Homo sapiens: one gene and its partners. The protein of the gene in region 3 interacts with the protein of the main gene of each other region in a pairwise test. Each region holds a gene or a part of one and is shown on either strand. Other genes may lie near its edges. The genes, in order: AP1M1, POGZ, SP4 and POU2F1.

Region 1 (4,987 bases), on a different chromosome or scaffold from region 3:
CTCAGCCTCCCATGTAGTTGAGATTACAGGCATGTACCACCACACCTGGGTAATTTTTGTATTTTTGGTAGAGACAGGATTTCACCTTGTTGGCTGGGCTGGTCACAAATTCCTGACCTCAAGTGATCTGCTCACCCCGGCCTCCCAAAATGCTGGGATTACAGGCATGAGCCACTGCGCCCAGCCCTAAAAAGGTTTTTTTAAAAGCCATTCTTGTAGAGGAGGTCTACTGGCTACACATTCCCTTGGCTTTCCTTTAAGAATGTCTCTATATTTTACCTTTATCCCTAAAGGCTATTTTCACTGGATATGGACTTCTGAATTGACGGTTTTTGTTTAGCACTTTAATATGTTATACCACTTCCTTCTGGCATCCATCATTTCTGGTGAGAAATCCACAGTCCCCCAAATCTTTATTCCCCTATAGGTGATGTATTATTGTCCTCTGGCTGCTTTCCAGATTTTTCTTTGCCTTTAGTTTCAGCAGTTAGATGAGGTGTGCACATCTTTGTGTTTCTACTGTTTGGGATTTGTTCAGCTTCTTGGATCTGTAAGTTTATGTCTTTCATCAAATTGGGAAGTTATCAATCATTGTTTCCTAAAATATGGTTTTTTGTTTTTTTGTTTTGTTTTGTTTTTTGAGACAGAGTTTCATTCTTGTTGCCCAGTCTGGAGTGCAATGGCACAATCTTGGCTCACTGCAACCTCTGCCTCCCAGGTTCAAGCTGTTATAAGTAAAATGTTTATTCAGAAACAGAATGCTTGTTCCTCGGTACCACAAGGAAAAATCAGCATTCAAACAAAAAGTTTTCTCAGCAAGGCAAATTTACTTTCTGCAGAAAGGGTGCTCCTCGCAGATGGAACAATGGCGAGAGCACACCCGAACAAAGGAGGAAAGCCGTTTTTATCCCTTATGCAGCTTGTCCCTGCTGCTGTGTCCTATCTCCATTGGCTGGAGCCAGACCTCACAATCTAAGCTAAACCTGACTGGCTAATAACTTAAAACTTTCCTAAATAGATAAAGGCAAGGGAGAACAAAGGAAAAAGAGGAAGTTGACTCATTCCCTTATATCTAACATCCCTTACATCTAAAAACAAATATCTTGGTTAAAGTACAAGGACACAGAATGTACTCATTCCCTTATATCTAACATCCTTTATGTCTAAAACAAATATTTCGGTTAAAGTACAAGGACATAGAATGTACATTATTTCTAACACTTATGATTTATTCTTTAGTGAGAAGGGAAACTTTGAAGAGGAACTTTTTTACTTTCTACAAAGCAATTCTCCTGTCTCAGCCTCCCGAGTAGCTGGGATTACAGGCATTCACCACCACACTTGGCTAATTTTGTATTTTTAGTAGAGACAGGGTTTCTCCATGTCGATCAGGCTGGTCTCAAGCTCCCAACCTCAGGTGATCCACCTGCCTCAGCCTCCCAAAGTGCTGGGATTACAGGCATGAGCCACCGCACCCAGCCCTCAGATATGTTTTTGTCATTTTACTCTTCCTTCAGGACTCCAGTGACATGAAAGACCTTTGGTTATTATATCATGTGTCCCTGAGGCTGCTTATTTTATTCTATCTTTTCTTCTCTCTGTTAGATTGGATAATTTACATTGAACTGCCTTTAAGTTCACAGGTCCTTTGGCCCTTTCCTGTTTATCTCCATTCTGTTATTATTATTATTACTATTATTATTATTATTTTTTTTTTTTTTGAGATAGGTTCCCACTCTGTCATCCAGGCTGGAGAGCCATGGAGCAAGCATGGCTCACTGTAGCCCCAACCTCCTGGGCTCAAGCGATCCTTCTGCTTCAGCCTCCTGAGTAGCTGGGACTACAGGTGTGCACCACCAAGCCTGGCTAATTTTTAAAAAAAAATTTTTGTAGAGATGAGGGTCTCTCTGTGTTGCCCTGGCTGATCTAGAACTCCTGGGGCAAGTGATCTTCCCACCTCAGCCTCCCAAAGTGCTGGGATTACAGGCATGAGCCACTGTACCTGGCCTCCATTCTGCTATTAAGTCCATTGAGCAAGTTGTTTATTTCAGTTACTATATTTTTAAAAATTTTCCATTTGATTCTTCTCTTTTTGTTTGTTTTTGTTTTTGTTTTTGTTTTGAGACAGGGTCTTACTCTGTTGCCCAGGCTGGAGTATAGTGGTGCAGTTATAGCTCACTGCAGCCTCAACCTCGTGTGTTCAAGTGATCTTCCCATCTGAGTGTGCTGAGTAGCTGAGACCACAGGCACGCACCACCATGCCTGGCTAATTTTTTTTTATTTTTTATTTTGTAGAGACCAGGACTTGCTGTGTTGCCCAGGCTAGTCTCGAACTCCTGGTTGATTCTTCTTTATCATCTGTTTCTTTGCTGAGACTTTCTATTTTAACATTTGTTGCAAGCATTTGCAATTTTAAAAATAGCTGTTTAAAGTCTTCATCAGATAATCCCAACATCTGTGAAGTGTTGACAGTGGTTGATTGGGTTTTCCAGGCAAGTTGACATTTTCGTGGTTGTTTGTATGCTGAGTAATTTTGGATTGCATCCTGGACTTTTTGAGCATTATGTGGTGATACTCTAGGTCTTATTTAAGCTATATGGGAAATATTGATATTTTTGTTTTAGCCAACAGCCAATCTTACTTTCAGGCCACAAGTTCCAATCCCCAACCTGTAGGCCATGAGCATCACGTCAGTTTTTAAAGCCCCCGTGCCATTTCCTGGTCAGATCTCCTGGGCGTGCACTGCCCAGTGGTCATTCTGGGACCCGAGTGGTTAGTTCAGTTCTCAAACTCTTTCGTAAGTCAAACTATGGTATATGCACAGGATTCACAGATGCTCGATTCTAGAGAGTTCTGGAGACATAAACCACTTCATGGGGTGACTTTCCTGAGCTTCTGGCTCTGTGCTGTCTACCTGGTACTTTTCTGATTCCTTGCGGTTTACTGTTGTACACGTCTGCCATTGGGCCCACTTCCCAGCCCACATGGAGAGAGGACAGAGAGAGAAAAGGACAACGGTTGCCCCACCCCCTCGGAACAGTAGCTGGCACCACAGGGCCTGGGGCATGAGGAACAGGGGAGATGGGGGGCTTCTGTGTTTTCCAGGAGAGTCAGGAGTTCCTCTTCTGGCCCCAGAGCCAGGCCTGGAGGCTCTGCTGAGCTCTCGTGTGCTCTGTGGTGCACACTTCTGCTTCCAGATTGCTGCTGCACTTTCTCGTGGGGGGCGGTGGGAACACTCTGCATTCGTGGCTCTTCCCTGGTCCACCTGCTGCTGTCTTCAGTCTTCCGGCAGCTGCCAAGCCTCCTGCCCAGGTTTCAGAGCTGTAGTCAGTGGCAGGGGAAGGGGCGCCAGCCGACCTGCCTCACCAGCCGCTTGCTTTCTTTTGTGTTCACGCTGGCCTCATCCCTGCGGTGTGGGTGGACTGTATGGGCTCAGCCAATCCAGTCATGCAGGTCACTCAGGTCCCGTTTCTGACGGCCACTGGCAGTGCAGCATTGAGCACGCTTGCTCAGCCCCAGACGTGTGCACTTGGGTGTCTCCGTGACCTGGGCCAGGATTTCTGGAGGACTGAGGCTGCAGACATGGAATTGCCAAGGAGAGTGCTGCCCAGAAAGACTGTCTCGCGCACTCCGTGCAGACCTCTTCGCTTTCTTACTTTCCGGGACGGGACAGTGGCCTCGCTAACCACATTCCCCTCTCCCCTGGGGACTCTTGTCTGATTGTTTATTGAGCCGAAAACAGGGTCCATCTGGGTGCTGTGGGGTGCAAAGGCAAGTCCCAGGGGGCAGCTTAGAGAGAGTCGAGCAGGAAAGCGCTAGGGCTGCGGGGGTCCCCGCCACAGTGCGCTGCTGCATGTGGCTCCGCCCGGAAGGATCCCACTCCTCCAAACAGGTCAGCACAAGGGCAGCTGTCAGGATGCCACCTTCCTAAGTGGCTTGCAGAGCTGGTGGCTGGGTCAACATTTGCCTCCAGATGCGATCATCTGAGTGCAGCCTGGTACTTACACAGCCGGGCCCTGAGCAAGCATCCCTTCAGCACCCGCCCTGGGAAGGGCACCGGCTCTGCGTGGCTGGTCACACCTCAGCTGAGAAGGTTCTGATTGCTGCCCGCAGGGCCGAGATCAGCCTCGTGGGCTGGGCAGCTTTTCAGCTCCACTCCCTGGGCCTGCTCTCGCGGCATTCACGACCTCATGTGTTCAGTTACAGCTGGCTGCCAGGGCCAGTCCCAACTCCCTGAGGGGGAGGCAGCACCCAAGGGGAATTAGGGGCCGTCACAGTGGAGTGGAGGGCCCTCCGAGAAAGAGGCAGGCAAAATCCCAATGCTCGGGCTCCTGGAGCCCCGGCCAGTGAGGGTCCCGAGCTCCTGAGCCTCCGCTTGCCCACTGAGCACCTCCTGCCACACACGCTGTTTCTGGTGCTGGACACGGCAGCGCGCAGCCCCACGTGGCTTCCCCCAGCAGGGAGAGAGAGAGAGAGACAAGCAGGCAGACGCAGGGAAGCTGTTGTGCACCATGGGATCAGGGAGCCGCTTGCGAGATGAGGACAGGACAGCACGAGGAGGTGAGGCTGGGGAAGGTGACAGAACCGGAGCCCTTGGGGCCATGTCCGGTTCCCTGCCCCTCCCAGGGCTGTCATTTGCTTGGCACCTCAGTTTTCCCAATTCCCTCAGAGGCGGCAAGCTGGTGAGGGGCTTTTGTTTGTCTACCCAGTGCTTTTTGGACATCATGCATAAGACTGCACAGACTCTCCTGCCACTCTGCAGACAGGAAATGCAGGCCCTGCACATGTTAGCCTGGCTGGAGCCAGCATCTGGGCCCAGGTATCCAAGTCGGTGGCCTTTGGCCCACTTGCTGGTGTGAGCATGGCCTCGTGCAGCATAGCAGTGTGCAGTGGTGGCCAGGGCTGCAGCCCCAGCGATTCTTCTGCCAGTCACTCTGTGCCCTCAGCACGGGGCCTCTGATCTGTGCCTGTTTCCTCACCTCTAAAA
Region 2 (4,987 bases), on a different chromosome or scaffold from region 3:
GCCGGGCGTGGTGGTGGGCACCTGTAATCCCAGCTACTCAGGAGGCTGAGACAGGAGAATTGCTTGAACCCGGGAGGTGGAGGTTGCAGTGAGCCGAGATGGTGCAATTGCACTCCAGCCTGGGCAACAAGAGCAAGACTCCGTCTCAAAAAAAAAAAAAAAAAAAAAAAAAGTCAATGTTGGCCGGGCATGGTGGCAGGCCAAGGTGGTAGGATTGCTTAAGGTCAGGAGTTCAAGACCAATCTGGGAAACAGAACCGATCCCTCTAAAAAATTTTTAAACAGAAAGGATAATCATATTATATTCATGTAGGAGAATGTATTTATTCCTAGGAAATGCACAAAATATTTAATAGAAATATCTTGAAAGTGACTTTCAAGGGGTTAAGCAAATACATAGATATTTGGCTTTTTTTTTTGAGACAGGGTGTCATTCTATCCCCCAGGCTGGAGTGCAGTGGCACAATCACGGCTTATTGCAGCCTCAACCTCCTGGGCTCAGGTGATCCTCCTGCCTCAGCCTCCCAAGTAGTTGTCACTACAGGTGGGCTATTTTGATATTTTCTTATAGATACTAGTATGCCAACTTTCAAAAAATATTTGGCATGGGCCAAAACATTAAAAATCATCCTGTCACCAGGCGCAGTGGCTCACGCCTGTAATCCCAGCACTTTGGGAGGCCAATGCAGGCGGATCACAAGGACAGGAGTTCGAGACCAGCCTGGCCAACACAGTGAAACCCCGTCTCTACTAAAAATACAAAAATTAGCCATGCGTGGTGGCTGGTGCCTGCAGTCCCAGCTACTCGGAAGGCTGAGGCAGGATAATCGCTTGAATTCGGGAGGCAGAGGTTGCAGTGAGCCAAGATTGTGCCACTGCACTCTAGTCTAGGCAACAGAGCGAGACTCTGTCTTAAAAAAAAAAAGTCACTCTGTCTAGGTGGTGGATAGTTTAAGTGTTCCTTGTAGAATTCTTTCACCCTTTTCTTTTTTCTTCTTTTTGTGATGGAGTCTCGCTCAGTTGCCCAGGCTGGAGTGATCTTGGCTCACTGCAACCTCCACCTCCCAGGTTCAAGTGATTTTCCTGCCTCAGCCTCCTGAGTAGCTGGGATTACATGCATGCGCCACAACGCCCAGCTAATTTTTGTATTTTTAGTAGAGACAGGTTTCACCATGTTGGTCAGGCTGGTCTTGAACTCCTGACCTTGTGATCCGCCCATCTTGGCCTCCCAAAGTGCTTCGGTTACAGGTGTGAGCCACTGCGCCCAGCCTCTTTCTCCCTTTTCGCATGCGTGAAATTTTCTTAATAAAAACTGAGGTGGGGTAGGAGGGAGTGGAACTACCTACTCATATCTTAGCTGTGATATTCTGTACTGCTACATTCCACCTATCTCTTTGGTATTTACTAAATAACTGGTAGCCTTGTTGGTTGAATTTCTTGATTTATTCCCAGGACCAATTTTCATGTAGCTTGTATATATACATTTCTCTTTTTTTATTTTTATGCATCCATTTTCACTTAATATACATTTCTTAAGACATAGCAAAATAGTTAAATAAGAAATAACAAATTAAGGTGGATTATGTAGGCTACCAAGGAGGTACATTACTTTCTTCCATTAATCCATTATTTGACATCTTGGTAACCTAGGTGGTTTCTCTATTTTGTAGTAATTGTAACATGATTTTTTTGTGCACTCAATAGGTTTTACTTAACACTGCAGGCTCACACAGAACTATTAGCAATACTCAGTCTCTTGTCTCATCCTTCAATCCATAATATGGGAGTACCAGATAAATACTCTCCTGGAGGGAAGGGGACTATTTCTTAAATGCTGGCGAATATGGTAGTCTATACTAAGGCCCTATATGATCAGCTAGTCAATAAAAGTCTATATAATTGTAAAGGCAAGATAAAAACAGACCTTTTAAAACAATATACTATTTAAAAGCAGCAAAAAGAATCCTGCAGATACACCTGTATACTTTTAAGGTATTTAATGGGCAGCAAATGTTGCCTATCTTCATCTCAAAGAAAATGAGAAAAAGATCTGTTTTCCACAACTATCCTGACATACTTGGTTCTTGAAAGCTCTGAATTCCTTTGTCTTGTTCTTTCATAGCTGTAAAGTCCAGAAATGAAGAATGAAGAATTCAGAAATGAAGAATTTGGTATCTAACGTTTTCAACTTACTGCCAGTACATACCTGCCCAAAAATCAACATAAAAAGAACATTTGGAACAGGAAAAATATTTTACAGAAAACAAACATTTTAAGAATACCACTTTCTTGTTCCAGGGTGAAAAATAAACAATGATAATCCTCAACATAACTGGTAATTATGTTTTCAAGTTACCTCAATTTTTGGCTCTAAAAAGGACTAATACCAGAAAACCTATAGGGCTGAATACTTAATCTGTGTATAAAACTATAGTTAAACATGTAATAAGCTTTTATTTATCCAGTCTTTTGCACAGCCCATTTTGTCCCTCACAACATCTGTTATAGTACCTCATATGTAAGAATCATAAGGGTTTTAAGTAGTCTTAATAACCTAAAATTTCCAAACTCAAAATACTTTCCTCTTGTCTGGTAGCCAATCCTGTATCAAGAAACACCCAAATATTTAGTTCTGTGCTCTTTACTAAAACAAGTAAGCAACAAGTTCTCTTCTTTAAAGGGGTTCAATATTCAGGAGTCCCTTTCCCAAGAAAAATATCTATACTATGATGGAAAACTTTTCTTCAATGACAGCTGTGTGTTGCCTAAATTCCATTTCTATGCTTTCAATTTCTTTTAACTCTGCTAACACCTAGCAATAGGTTAGTGTCTCTTTTCTGCTCTCCTCCCCTTGGTTACATATAAAAATACGTTTTTCAGTTGGGCGTGGTGGCTCACGCCTGTAATCCCAGCACTTTGGGAGGCCAAGGCGGGTCGATCAAGAGGTCAGGAGTTTGAGACCAGCCTGATCAATATGGTGAAACCCCATCTCTAGAAAAATACAAAAATTACCCAGGTGTGGTGGCGCGTGCCTGTAATCCCAGCTACTGAGGAAGCTGAAGGAGGAGAATCGCTTGAACCCAGGAGGCGGAGGGTGCAGTGAGCCGAGATTGCGCCATTACGCTCCAGCCTGGGCAATAGAGCGAGACTCCATCTCAAAAAAAAAAAAAAGACAAGTTTTTGTGAATATGGCTTAATATCACAAACAAGAATACCAAAGAATCTATCAAAATGTTACCATATTGATATTATGGCAAAGGCATTAACCAGCTCTAGGATTTGTAATCAACCAGCTCTAAAGTTTTTATTTTACAGATAAGGTCAAAACAGTGGTTTAGAGAGACGAAGTAACTTCCTCAAGGTTACAGTTAGTAAATATCCCAGTTAGGATTCAAAGCAAGCTTTTTTTGCTTTAGAATTCTTCCCCAGGTCACTGCCTCTTCCATCAACTTCAACTATTTATAAATTCTCCCAAGTTCCCCAAGGGAGTTAGATTTGAATGATGTAAAGAGCAGAAACATAGGACTGACTGAATGATTCTCATTTTTTTGACTCTTAAAATTATTGAAGACGCCAAAGATCTTTTGTTTATGTGAATTTTATCTTTCCACATTTACCACAAATTTTTAAAATGTAGTATTTATCAATGTATTTTAAGACAAGCCCATTATAAGTTAACATAAATAACATTTCAACAAAAAATACTTTCCCTCCAAAAAGTGAGAAAAGTAACGTTGTTTTGCATTTTGCAAATCTCTTTTATGTCTAACTTGATAAAAGATGGTTGGATTCTCACAGTTACTTCTGCATTCAGTCTGTTGCTATATGTAGCTTTGGTTAAGTATATAATGAAAATCTAGTCGGAAAAGGGAGAAGTATTTTAATAACCTTTTCAGATAACTGTGTTTGGTAAATACTAAAACTCAACAAACGGTAGTTTCTTTCTTTTTTTTTTTTTTTTTTTTTTTTAATAAATAGAGACAGGGTCTCACTATGCTGACCAGGCTCAACTCCAACTCCTGGGCTCACACAATCCTTCCACCTTGGCCTCCCAAAGTGCTGGGATTACAGGAGTGAGCCACCACGCTAGGCCAAATAGTAGTTTCTTAAAGGACAGTTAACATTTTGGAATCTGAAACCACATCAATCCACTTTTTTACTGTTAAAATCCATTGCTATGTCTGGAATTTTCAAAGGATCTTTTGCCTTTGCTTGATTTTGCAACATCATGCATTGGTCATTTGCAAAGCCTAGATTTACTGAGTTATGCCCATCTTCCAAATAACATATTTCATTAAACAACATTTTAAAATATTGCAGTCCTTAACCACTGATATCATAAGGAAAGTCTTTTAAGTACTAGGAAGCTGTCAAACTCCAGCTGTCAACTTTTTAAAAATTCTAATTTTCACCCAAATTTTATCACTGGTAATAAATACTGTCAGTTGTTTTCCTAAAAGTGACAAGCTCACTTCATTTTCAAGAAATATCTGCCAAATACTAAGTGTGAAAAACCATAGTCTGCTAGTCGTTCTTTCAAGTAAAAATGCTACTCCATGAAATAAGCCATTCATTCACAACCCAATCTCACAAATGCTTTTCCTTCATGACAACAATCACACCTCCCTAGGCAGCATAAATGCTTTATCCATGTTTATTTAATCACAAATTCTTAAAAATTAAAAAGACATGTAGTCAAAAGCTAAGACTTAATAATAATAGGCCGGGCACGGTGGCTCATGCCTGTAATCCCAGCACTTTGGGACGCCGAGGCAGGTGGATCGCCTGAGGTCCGGAGTTCGAGACCAGCCTGGCCAACATGGCGAAACACTGTCTCTACTAAAAATACAACCAGGGAGGAAGAGATTGCAGTGAGCCGAGATAGTGCCACTGCACTCCACCCTGGGCGACAGAGCAAAACTCCGCCTCAAAAAAATAAAAATAGAATAATAAATTTTACTGCTTCAAGGGCATTCTCAAGTAGTTTG
Region 3 (4,987 bases):
GTAATGTTTTCTACACCTAAAGAAAGGATTAAAAAAAAAAATCTATGTGCATAATAAATTTTTTCTAACAATCTGTGTAAAGTACAAAAACTAAGGGGTTAATGGCTTATACTATGTCAATCCTTCTAAAATATAGTATTCTTACTTTAGTGGCTCAGGTTGCCTATGTATCTAGATAACGGAACTATATACATACATCATTTAACTCACTTTGTGGCTTAATTTCTCTCTCCATCTGTAAAATGAAGATAATACTTGCCACTTACCTACTCACTAAAATACTATGAGGATACATGAGATAGTCTAAAAGCATTTTGAGATCCTAAAAGATGTTATATAAACACAAAGCTTTATTACCATTTCCACGGTAAGCAACATATCTTATCATAACAAGAAAATACAGGAGTGAAAAGTCACTAAACAAAGGATTAAGTTTTATGGACATCTTGCATTCCTAAATAGTTTAAATAAACATCTCTTTATTGATTCGACTTTTTTTAGTGTATACATAAAGTGGTTTTTGAAATGCAAAACCACCCAAGATTACTACATACTGTCACTGTAATCATAAAAAGACATTTAAGATATTATTACTTTATTCATTCATGTTATATAGCTTAGACTTCATCACTCAGATTAGTATATATACCAGCTTGGCTTCTTCACTTTGGGAAAAATATAATAAATAATGCACAATAAAACAACAATAAAAAAATCTATTGGCATGGCTTAACATTATCCTGAAATACAATGCTTTTTTTTTTTTTTTTTTTTTTTGAGATGGAGTCTTGCTCTGTCGCCCAGGCTGGAGTGCAGTAGCACGATCTCGGCTCACTGCAACCTCCACCTCCTGGGTTCAAGCAATTCTTCTTCTTCAGCCTCCCTAGTAGCTGGGATGACAGGCGTGTGCCACCATGCCCAGCTAATTTTTTTTGTATTTTTAGTAGAGACAGGGTTTTGCCATGTTTGCCAGGCTGGTCTCAAACTCCTGACCTCAGGTGATTCACCTGCTTTGGCCTCCCAAAGTGCTGGAATTACAGGTGTGAGCCACCGTGCCCGGCCTACAATGCCTTATAATTATCTTTTCTTTCACACAGTTCTACATTCTCTCCATCAGGTGTGGGAATAACAAGTATGTGAATGGACTGAAAAGAAAATACCAATTTATGAAAGAATGTTTCTACCTCAGAAAGTTGATGTAAGTATTAAGTAAATTTACAAATCCTCTACCAGAGTGCTGGCACGGAATTGCTCATTACATGGTAGCTACTGTTACCAATTCATCTCTGCTGAGTTCAGTGGCAATACAAGAATAAAATATGTCACTTTGGGAGGCTGAGATGTCAGATCACAAGGTCAGGAGATCGAGACCATCCTGGCTAACATGGTGAAACCCAGCCTCTACTAAAAATACAAAAAATTAGCCGGGCGTGGTGGCGGGCGCCTGTAGTCCCAGCTACTCGCTACTCAGGAGGCTTAGGAAGGAGAATGGCATGAACCTGGGAGGCAGAGCTTGCAGTGAGCTGAGACTGTGCAGCCTGGGCGACAGAGCGAGACTCTGTCTCAAAATAACAATAAAATATGCTAGCAGAAACAAACATACCGGTCCTGCATACAAAATAAAAGGGTTTCTTTCAGGCCAGGCGTGGTGGCTCAGGCCTGTAATCCCAGCACTTTTGGAGGCTGAGGCAGGTGGAACACGAGGTCAGGAGATGGAGACCATCCTAGCTAACACGGTGAAACCCCATCTCTATTAAAAATACAAAAAATTAGCCAGGTGTGGTAGCACACACCTGTAGTCCCAGCTACTTGGGAAGCTGAGGCAGCAGAATCGCTTGAACCCGGGAGGCAGAGGTTTCAGTGAGCCGAAATTGTGCCACTGCACTCCAGCCTGGGCGTCAAGAGTGAGACTCTGTCTCAAAAAAAAAAACAAAAAACAAAAAACAAAAAAAGGGTGGGGGAGGTTATTTCAAAGCTGCACATGTAGTACCTTAAATGTATGGGGCAACCAAGAAGAGGCAATAAAAAGTACCAAGTAAGAAAACAGTACACATTTTCTAAACAAAATTAAACCTCTGACTCTCCCAGCCAAAGTCAATCTCACTCTCCTCTGCGTATCCACAGCACCGTTAATCCTTCTGGTAGCACCCATAACTAACATGCACATTAAAAAATTTATTTTGTCACTGTTTTAGTAAGGATACAAACCCTCTACTAAAATTTACATTTTTGTACACCTTTGAATTAGCATGGTGTGGTAAGTAAAGCAATGCAAGTGAAGTGAGAGTTGTAAATTTATGACTGTGCACTCAGAGATCCTCAGTTTCCTCAACTCTAAAATAGTAACACTGACTTCCATAAAATTTCTGCTCCCTATCTACTTTAAAGAGCTGTTCCTGAGGATCAAGTTGATTTTCCAGGGGTAAAGGCTATATAAATTATAAAGCAATACATAAACAAAAGGTATAATTATTTTGTTTCAGTGTTTTTGAACATGTATTCAGTAAAACTAGATGGCTTAAGGATGACCTTGGCTACAAAATCTATTCAAACTACTTGTGTACCAAGAAGCACAGTGATACACACACTTTGTTTACTGCAAAAAATGCATTTCTAGAAATGAGAGTACTGTCTGAACAAGCACTATACAAAATCTACAGCATGGTCCCTATGGAGCTGCAGGTATTTTAAGTTGGTAAGTACCCTTTACATCCCCTGAAGACACAGGTATTTTTGGCCGTGATTCTCTGACTACTTTTCTCATAACATTTATATAACAGTCATTACTTTAAAGGTCGCAATAATATTTAAGATGACCTTTATTTTGGTAAAGAACTGCTAGATGAGTTTCAAGTCAAAGCTAAGTCTGGGGGTGAGGGGTGGGGAAGAACTGCTAGAGATTCCTGATCCCTCTGGTCCCCTGACCATGTCCTTGACACACTCCTCAAGCCTCCATATTGTGAGCATTTCTTTGTTCAATGCCTAAACAACTTGGAAAGTTATTTCAATGAATAACAGAGGCAAATTATATTTGAGTTTGTATATTGAAGCCCGTTAATTGACTTCATCTAGATGTTTCACAGACAGCTAAGTTCAACATACTGCTTTATTTCCACTGCCATCAGTAAGCCACCAAACTCCAGAGCAAGACCTCCGAGGCCCCACTTAAGTTTAATTCTATTGACTTCTCAGAGCTCATCTCTATTAGTCTCTCCCTTGCTCACTCTGCACCTGATATACTGGCCTCTCTTCTGGCCCTCAAATAAATCAAGCTCATTTCCTTCTTAGGGACTTTGCATATACTCTCCAGTCTAAGTGGGGATGCCTTTGCACCCAGATCTTTGCATAGTTGATTCCTTTGTAATATTCTGGTCTGAGTTCAAATCTCTCCTCTTTAGAAATGCCATTCCTGACCATCCCATCTAAAAGCTCCCCTCAATATATCACTGTATCATCACCTAGTTTTGTCTTATTTGTCTTAAATTACTTTGTCCTTTTATAATTTGGTCTTCACCTCACTTCTGAAGGTAAAGTGCCATGAAAGTAGGGATCTTGCCTATTATGTTCACTGCTGTATCTCTAGTACCGTAACAGTGCCTAATAACTCAATAACAGTGCCACTCAATAGCATATGCTTAATAAATCAAAGTTTAAAAATAAAAAATGATTTCATCTTCCAGTCTTGCTTCTGCTAATGTCCCTGTTTCAGTAAATGCTACCCCTATTCTCCTTGTTATCCACACTGAAAACCTTAAAATGTCATCTTTTAGGCTACTTCTTTACTCATTACATCCAGTGATGACCAAATTTTGAAGACACTACTGCCTAACAGCTCTTACGCTAACCTGTTTCCAAGCAAGATTATCATCTTGATCCAAGCCCTTGTTCAATCTGTGCCTCTACCAACCTAAATTGAGCTTTCCCTCCTTTCTCATCCTTCACACTGCTGCCAGAAAAATAAAAAAGTAGTGTTCTGATCATCTCACTTTCGTGCTCAATAACATTTAATCATTCTTCCACCGACCAAAGTCTGGCATTCAAAGCACTCTACCACAAGGACTTACTCAGCTCCTGGTTCACAGTCTTCCTTCTAATGACCAAATCTATTGTGCATTTTTTCAGTGACCATTACAGGACTGCTCTGCTGCATTTGACACCACTCGCCACTCCATCCTTATTCAATTTTGACTCTGTGAGCTAACTTCCTACATTTCAGAAACCCCTTCTTCTCTGTTAGCTCCTTTTTGTTTGGTTGCTTTTTTTTTTCTTTTTTTTTAAGAGATGGGGGTCTCACTCTGCTGTTCAGACCAGTCTTGAACTCCAGGGCTCAAGCAATTCTCCTGCCTTGGTCTCCCAAGTAGCTGAGATTACAGGCATGCACCACCATGCATGGCCTTAGCAATTTTTTAAAATCAGCACTTAAATCTAAATTTATGTCACTTTCTGAAAAGATTTATCAGCCAGGTGCAGTGGCTCACACCTGTAATCCCCGCACTTTGGGAGGCCGAGGCAGGAGGACTGCTTGAGCCCAGGAGTTCAAGACCAACCTAGGCAACGCAGTGAGATGCCATCTCTTAAAAAAATTAAAAAATTAGCCAGGCATGGTGGCATGTGCCTGTAGTCCTGGCTACTCATGAGAATGAGGTGCTGAGGTGAGAGGATCACTTGAGCCCTGGGGATCAAGACTTCAGTGAGCCGTGATGGCACCACTGTACTTCAACTTCAGCCTGGGTGACAGAGAAAGTCCCTCTCAAAAACAAACAAACAAACAAACAATCAAACAAAATACACCCTCTACTCTTCCTAGGCCACTCTCCAGGGTTCTGACTTCTCATTCTAACTCTCTTCTTGGGGGACCTCATCTACTTTCATAACTTTTACTGCTATGTGTAAGCTGATTAACTCACAGATCTGTGCCTTCCACTCAGAAGTGTCATACTCTTACTATCAACTGCCAGTGAACACTTCCACCTGAATCCTCACAAGC
Region 4 (4,987 bases), on a different chromosome or scaffold from region 3:
TTGGCCTACTGTTTTATAATTTTCAAAGTGTTTTCATGAACGTTATCTTATTTAGACTAATGTTAATATAGGGTCTCACAGCTTAGGCACTAAAAACATTTATTTGGTGATGAGAAAGTGGCCAAAATCAAAACATTATCTTGATAAAGATTGTATAAAGACTAGTCTGATATTTATTCTCTACTCTTACAGTTAATTAGTTCTTTTTAAATGGTTAGTCAAACTCTTGCTACAAGTTAAGTCCATTTCTGAGTCTTTTCTGAGACGGATAAAGACAGCTGTCTAACAATTAGACTCATAATAACTCTTCATATATTTTACTGATATATCTACTTATACCTTTTTCCTCTTCTTGAGATTAAAGATTTTATTTATTTTCCTCCTTGGTACTATTGTGTATGCTTCTTAATTTTTTTTTTTTTTAGTGGCGCGATCTCGGCTCACTGCAAGCTCCACCTCCTGGGTTCACGCTATTCTCCTGCCTCAACCTCCCGCGTAGCTGGGATTACAGGCACCTGCCACCACACCTGGCTAATTTTTTGTATTTTTAGTAGAGATGGGGTTTCACCGTGTTAGCCAGTATGGTCTCGAACTCCTGACCTAGTGATCCGCCCGCCTCGGCCTCCCAAAGTGCTGGGATTACAGGCGTGAGCCACCGCGCCTGGCGCTTCTTAAATAAATTTTTATTATCTCTAGATACTTTGCCCTAAAATGTGAAAATTGAAACCAAACAACATTCTAATGCAATAATGTTAATCACTCCATAGCAGAGATGACTCACTGTCTCACACATGGGTGGCAACATTCACCGCAGAGCACATGAAAAAAAATCCATGTCTGCTGTAATTAGCTAATTAAAATAAATACAGTAATCCCCTGCTTCAAAAATATGCCAGCTAATTATTCAAGAATTGTCACTTAATATAAAGTCAGTTATTCAAATAATCAGCTATATGTTTACAATATCAACTACAATAAGCAAACAAACATTATTTCTAATTCAGTGGTAAGGAAGGGTACCGCTTACCTCACTGATCTAGAGCTCCTCAGGCAGTTAAGGCCCCACACTAACAATCAAAAAGTTAATCTAACATTAAATAAAACCTGCCACTTTATTCCTCACTTGCTGCCCCAGCTATTGGAGTTCCTCACTCACCTGTGCGATCTGTATGGGCTGAGACAGGGGGATCTGCGTCATGGGCGTGGCAGCAGAGGCGGAGATGGTGGCTCCAGCAGCACTGTGCTGCTGGCTGGCGGAGTGCTGCTGCACTGCAGCAGCCAGCAGCTGTGCCTGTGCCTGTGCCTGCTGGAGTAGTAACTGTTGCTGGGCAGGCGTCAAAGTAAGCTAAACAAAACCAGAACACATTATGGGAAAGTGTTGAAGGAGAAAGTCTCCTAATGCAAGCCAACTGCTTTAAAATAGGTAACTCAAATGATATCAGTCCCCAGCTACCCAACTTCACTTGCTTAGCAGACAGCTAAAATGTTCATCAGTGATCAAACTACCATTACTAGCAGAACATTTAAATTAAAATGGTGGTCCCCACTATGGACTTAATCATTCAAGCTTGTCCAGGGCCCTAGGGTTTGGGCAAAAAAGTAATTAACTAGTAAGCAAGAAAAAAAAAAAAGAATCACCACTGACAAGATATGAAAATACATTTACACACAACCAAACAGCAAGTGATTAGTCAGATGAATGAGGAACAAGGATGCTGGATATAACCAAGGAAAGAACTGATAAGGCCCAGCTGCTTCCCATTAGCATGAATCCCTGCCATATTCCATCATTTCCATTAAGTCCAAAGATATGACTAAAGAATATGAGCTCCATTTGTTTCTTTTCCAAGTCTCCCTACAGGCCCCTCCCTAACACAATCTTTTCTGTTATTGAAAGCACTGAGTCTCTGCAACTTTACATCTCCTTTCCAACACATTATCTCTATGAAACAGGTGGTGATAGCCGTTCTCTTTACATGCAAATGAACCCTAATGCCCAGGTTTAACAGAAGCTCCAGCCAAAGGAACCTAGAATCCCAACTCCCTCTTACTATTGTAGACACTAGTCACCAAAAACAAGACCCAAATAGTAAAGTAGGAAATGTATTTAGAGCATATTTAAAGTTGTTTTCATAATGCAACTTATTTCAAACACACTTAAAGTAGTAAATGTGTTCTACTTTTCTTTTGGTGACAAGTTCTGATTGATCAAACAAGATGGAACCATAATTTTCTGAAGTATATGTACAGTCACTTAGTGCCACAACCTCCTCTAAAAGAATCAAACACAATTTGTGCATTAGAAACATAAGGCTCAAAACCAAACCATTCAAAAACTCAATACCCTTCAAGGGATATGTGTGTATATAAAGTATAGATATATTTTTAATTTTTACATAATATATATATACATACATCTCTACTCATGGGATTTTGTGAACAATTTTGCAACAGTTCTTAAAACAGTTGTCCACTGACAAAACACACTTAACTGGGAAAAAAAGAAAGAAAGAAAGAAAGAAAACAAAAAACCCTAGGAAATTCTTGGGAGTTAATGTGATGTGAATTGAATAAAAACTATTCCTTACCATTGCCCTAAACCAACCCCCACAAAGATAATTTAATACACAAATTTTCAACATTGGAAAAATATTTTGAATGGTGCCTTAGAGAAAAGACAGCTGAAAACTTAAAAGCTTAATATAGCCAAACAGGCCAATTTATTAACCATAAAAAATAAATGACAGAACGTCTCAGCCTTTTGGCTAAGATCAAGTACAAAAATAAACAATATTTGTTGAATGCTACATGCCAAGCACCGTTCTATAAGTTTTACATGTATTATCTCCAATCTTTACAACAGTAATGTGAGATAGGTATTATTAGTATCTCCATTTAACAGAAGGAAAACAGGTAGAGGGAAATGAAGTAATTAGGCCATACGGTAAGTTGCAGAGCTAGGATATGAAGCCACATGCTTTATTTTAGATCATTACACAGTAACTTAAAGAAAAATGTTTTTCTTTTGCAGGTACTAATCCATTCTTTAACTTCTACCCTGCAGTGATGTCTTAATGCCAAATGGATAACTGCCATTTTCAGTGTAATGATCTCAACCATATGATAATTACTCCATTGCATGATGAAGCAACACCTGAAACAGGGGTTTAATAAGGTTTTTAATTTATCCAGAGCATCCACAATTCTAATAAAAGATATCCTGAAAACTTACGACAAAGATAATTCCTTTTTCAGAGCAACTTACTACCTACAGTGTAGGAAGTTCCTTAAAGACACAATAGTGCCAGGCATAGCCATGTTACTACCAGCTATGGTGAACAATTCTAATCAGCTATTGGCCAATGGCAGTTCTGACACAGAAAAAGTTTGTTATAATTCTCTCAGTGAACACTTACCCCAGTTATCTGTCCTCCAGCTAGCATAAGCTGGGTCTGGGGAATGGCTGCCTGCACTGAAGGCTGCTGGGAAGGCTGGCTTGGCTGCTGCGAATCCCCCGATTCTTCATTAGATTTAGACTGAGGTGGGGTGGGTAGGAAATAAAAGATTGCAAATGGTTGATTAAAAGAAATGTACTTAAAACCCCATCTTTTAGGAATCATTTAAAACATGAGCTTATTCAGTCATGAGTTCTGGTTTACCTCCTTTCTTTTATTTGTATTTTCCTAGTTTCACATACCAAGTTTTTAAACTTGTTAATTCTAATGCCAGCAAAGCTGCTATTACAATTTTTAAAAATAAAGTCATCCCCCACAAATTTATAGATTTTTTTCATAGCCCCCAATTCCTCAACTCTAGAAATAGGGGGTAAAGGGAAGAATATATTTTCAATTCACCTCTACATTAGACCTTCCAAACCAATATTTTAACATACACCTGGTGGTCAGTCTGAAACTTCTCCATATACCATCTCAGAGAATGATCACTTGATCCACAGAACTTTCCACCTAATATTTTACAGAACGGTAAATCTAGCAACTCCCATCAACTAACACACAAGCTCAGAGAGAAAATGCTGCAGTCAAGAGAGAGGGGCACGAAGAGAAAATTTTACGGTAATTAAAACTGGTTATGCAAAGCATTAAAATTCTGCATAGATTTGCATATTTCTCACCACCTGTTTTGGGGACTGCAGCAAGGCTAATTAACATAAATGCTCTGATTAATTCTGCCAGTCATTGAGAGATAATTACAGTGCAGGACTGTAAACATTCTGCACTGGAGATACAGCCTGTTTGCCAACATCTCTCTAAGGGATGAAAGTTTACCATGGCAACCAAGGCAATTTTCCGCCTCCTCTCCCTCAGAAAGTAAGGTCACATTATCTCTTTTTCTTTTCTCTCCTTGTTCCTACGTGTTACTAGGTCCATATTCAACTGGGTTTCATGAAATGCTCAACCCAAGGTCTTTAGTCATTAGCAACACTGAAATCAATCTTCCATAATACTGTCTTTCCCTCTTGACTGCTAGTTACCTAAACACTATAATGAAAGGAACCAGCAGGTTGATAGAAATATTAAGAGGGCAATGTCTAACACTTGAACTTTGCATGTTGTGCCATATGGTTCAAAGAAGGAAAGTGGCCAGATTTAAGTTTTAAGATTTTGATTGTCTATCCACCAACATCTACAAACAGGTTTAATTACAATTATTAGAAGCCTAACATTTTAGGATGGAGAGGAACCCTGGCAATCTTATAAATGTCCCCACTTAAGTACAGATGAGAAAAACTGAACCCAAGGAGGTTATGTGACTTGCCAAAGGTCACACAGCTAGTCAGTGGCAGAATGAGAATGCAAACCTAAGACCCTTGTGTCTCAGTCCAGTGTTCTTTCCTCTTCCCTATAAGGTCTCCCTAAGACATCAAAAATGATAAATAACAAGTCTTTTGGAAACAAACTGGCATTTAAGAGAACTTTCAGGCTGTGTGTTTAGGTATGTGTTATAGCAGTATAACTTAGAAACATTT

What was found.
Region 1: the proteins of SP4 (region 3) and AP1M1 interact in binary tests that used the Homo sapiens proteins (3 or more experiments, as listed by UniProt).
Region 2: the proteins of SP4 (region 3) and POGZ interact in binary tests that used the Homo sapiens proteins (3 or more experiments, as listed by UniProt).
Region 4: the proteins of SP4 (region 3) and POU2F1 interact in binary tests that used the Homo sapiens proteins (3 or more experiments, as listed by UniProt).

The regions. Positions count from the first base shown.
Region 1 is NC_000019.10:16,220,505-16,225,491, forward strand, and holds part of AP1M1 (AP-1 complex subunit mu-1), read left to right. Parts: intron 1-4,987. UniProt on the Homo sapiens protein: Subunit of clathrin-associated adaptor protein complex 1 that plays a role in protein sorting in the trans-Golgi network (TGN) and endosomes.
Region 2 is NC_000001.11:151,451,951-151,456,937, forward strand, and holds part of POGZ (pogo transposable element with ZNF domain), read right to left. Parts: intron 2,953-4,987; exon of another isoform or gene 2,077-2,952; intron 1-2,076. UniProt on the Homo sapiens protein: Plays a role in mitotic cell cycle progression and is involved in kinetochore assembly and mitotic sister chromatid cohesion.
Region 3 is NC_000007.14:21,472,064-21,477,050, reverse strand, and holds part of SP4 (transcription factor Sp4), read right to left. Parts: intron 1-4,987. UniProt on the Homo sapiens protein: Binds to GT and GC boxes promoters elements. Probable transcriptional activator.
Region 4 is NC_000001.11:167,370,466-167,375,452, reverse strand, and holds part of POU2F1 (POU domain, class 2, transcription factor 1), read right to left. Parts: intron 3,537-4,987; coding exon 3,417-3,536; intron 1,346-3,416; coding exon 1,157-1,345; intron 1-1,156. UniProt on the Homo sapiens protein: Transcription factor that binds to the octamer motif (5'-ATTTGCAT-3') and activates the promoters of the genes for some small nuclear RNAs (snRNA) and of genes such as those for histone H2B and immunoglobulins.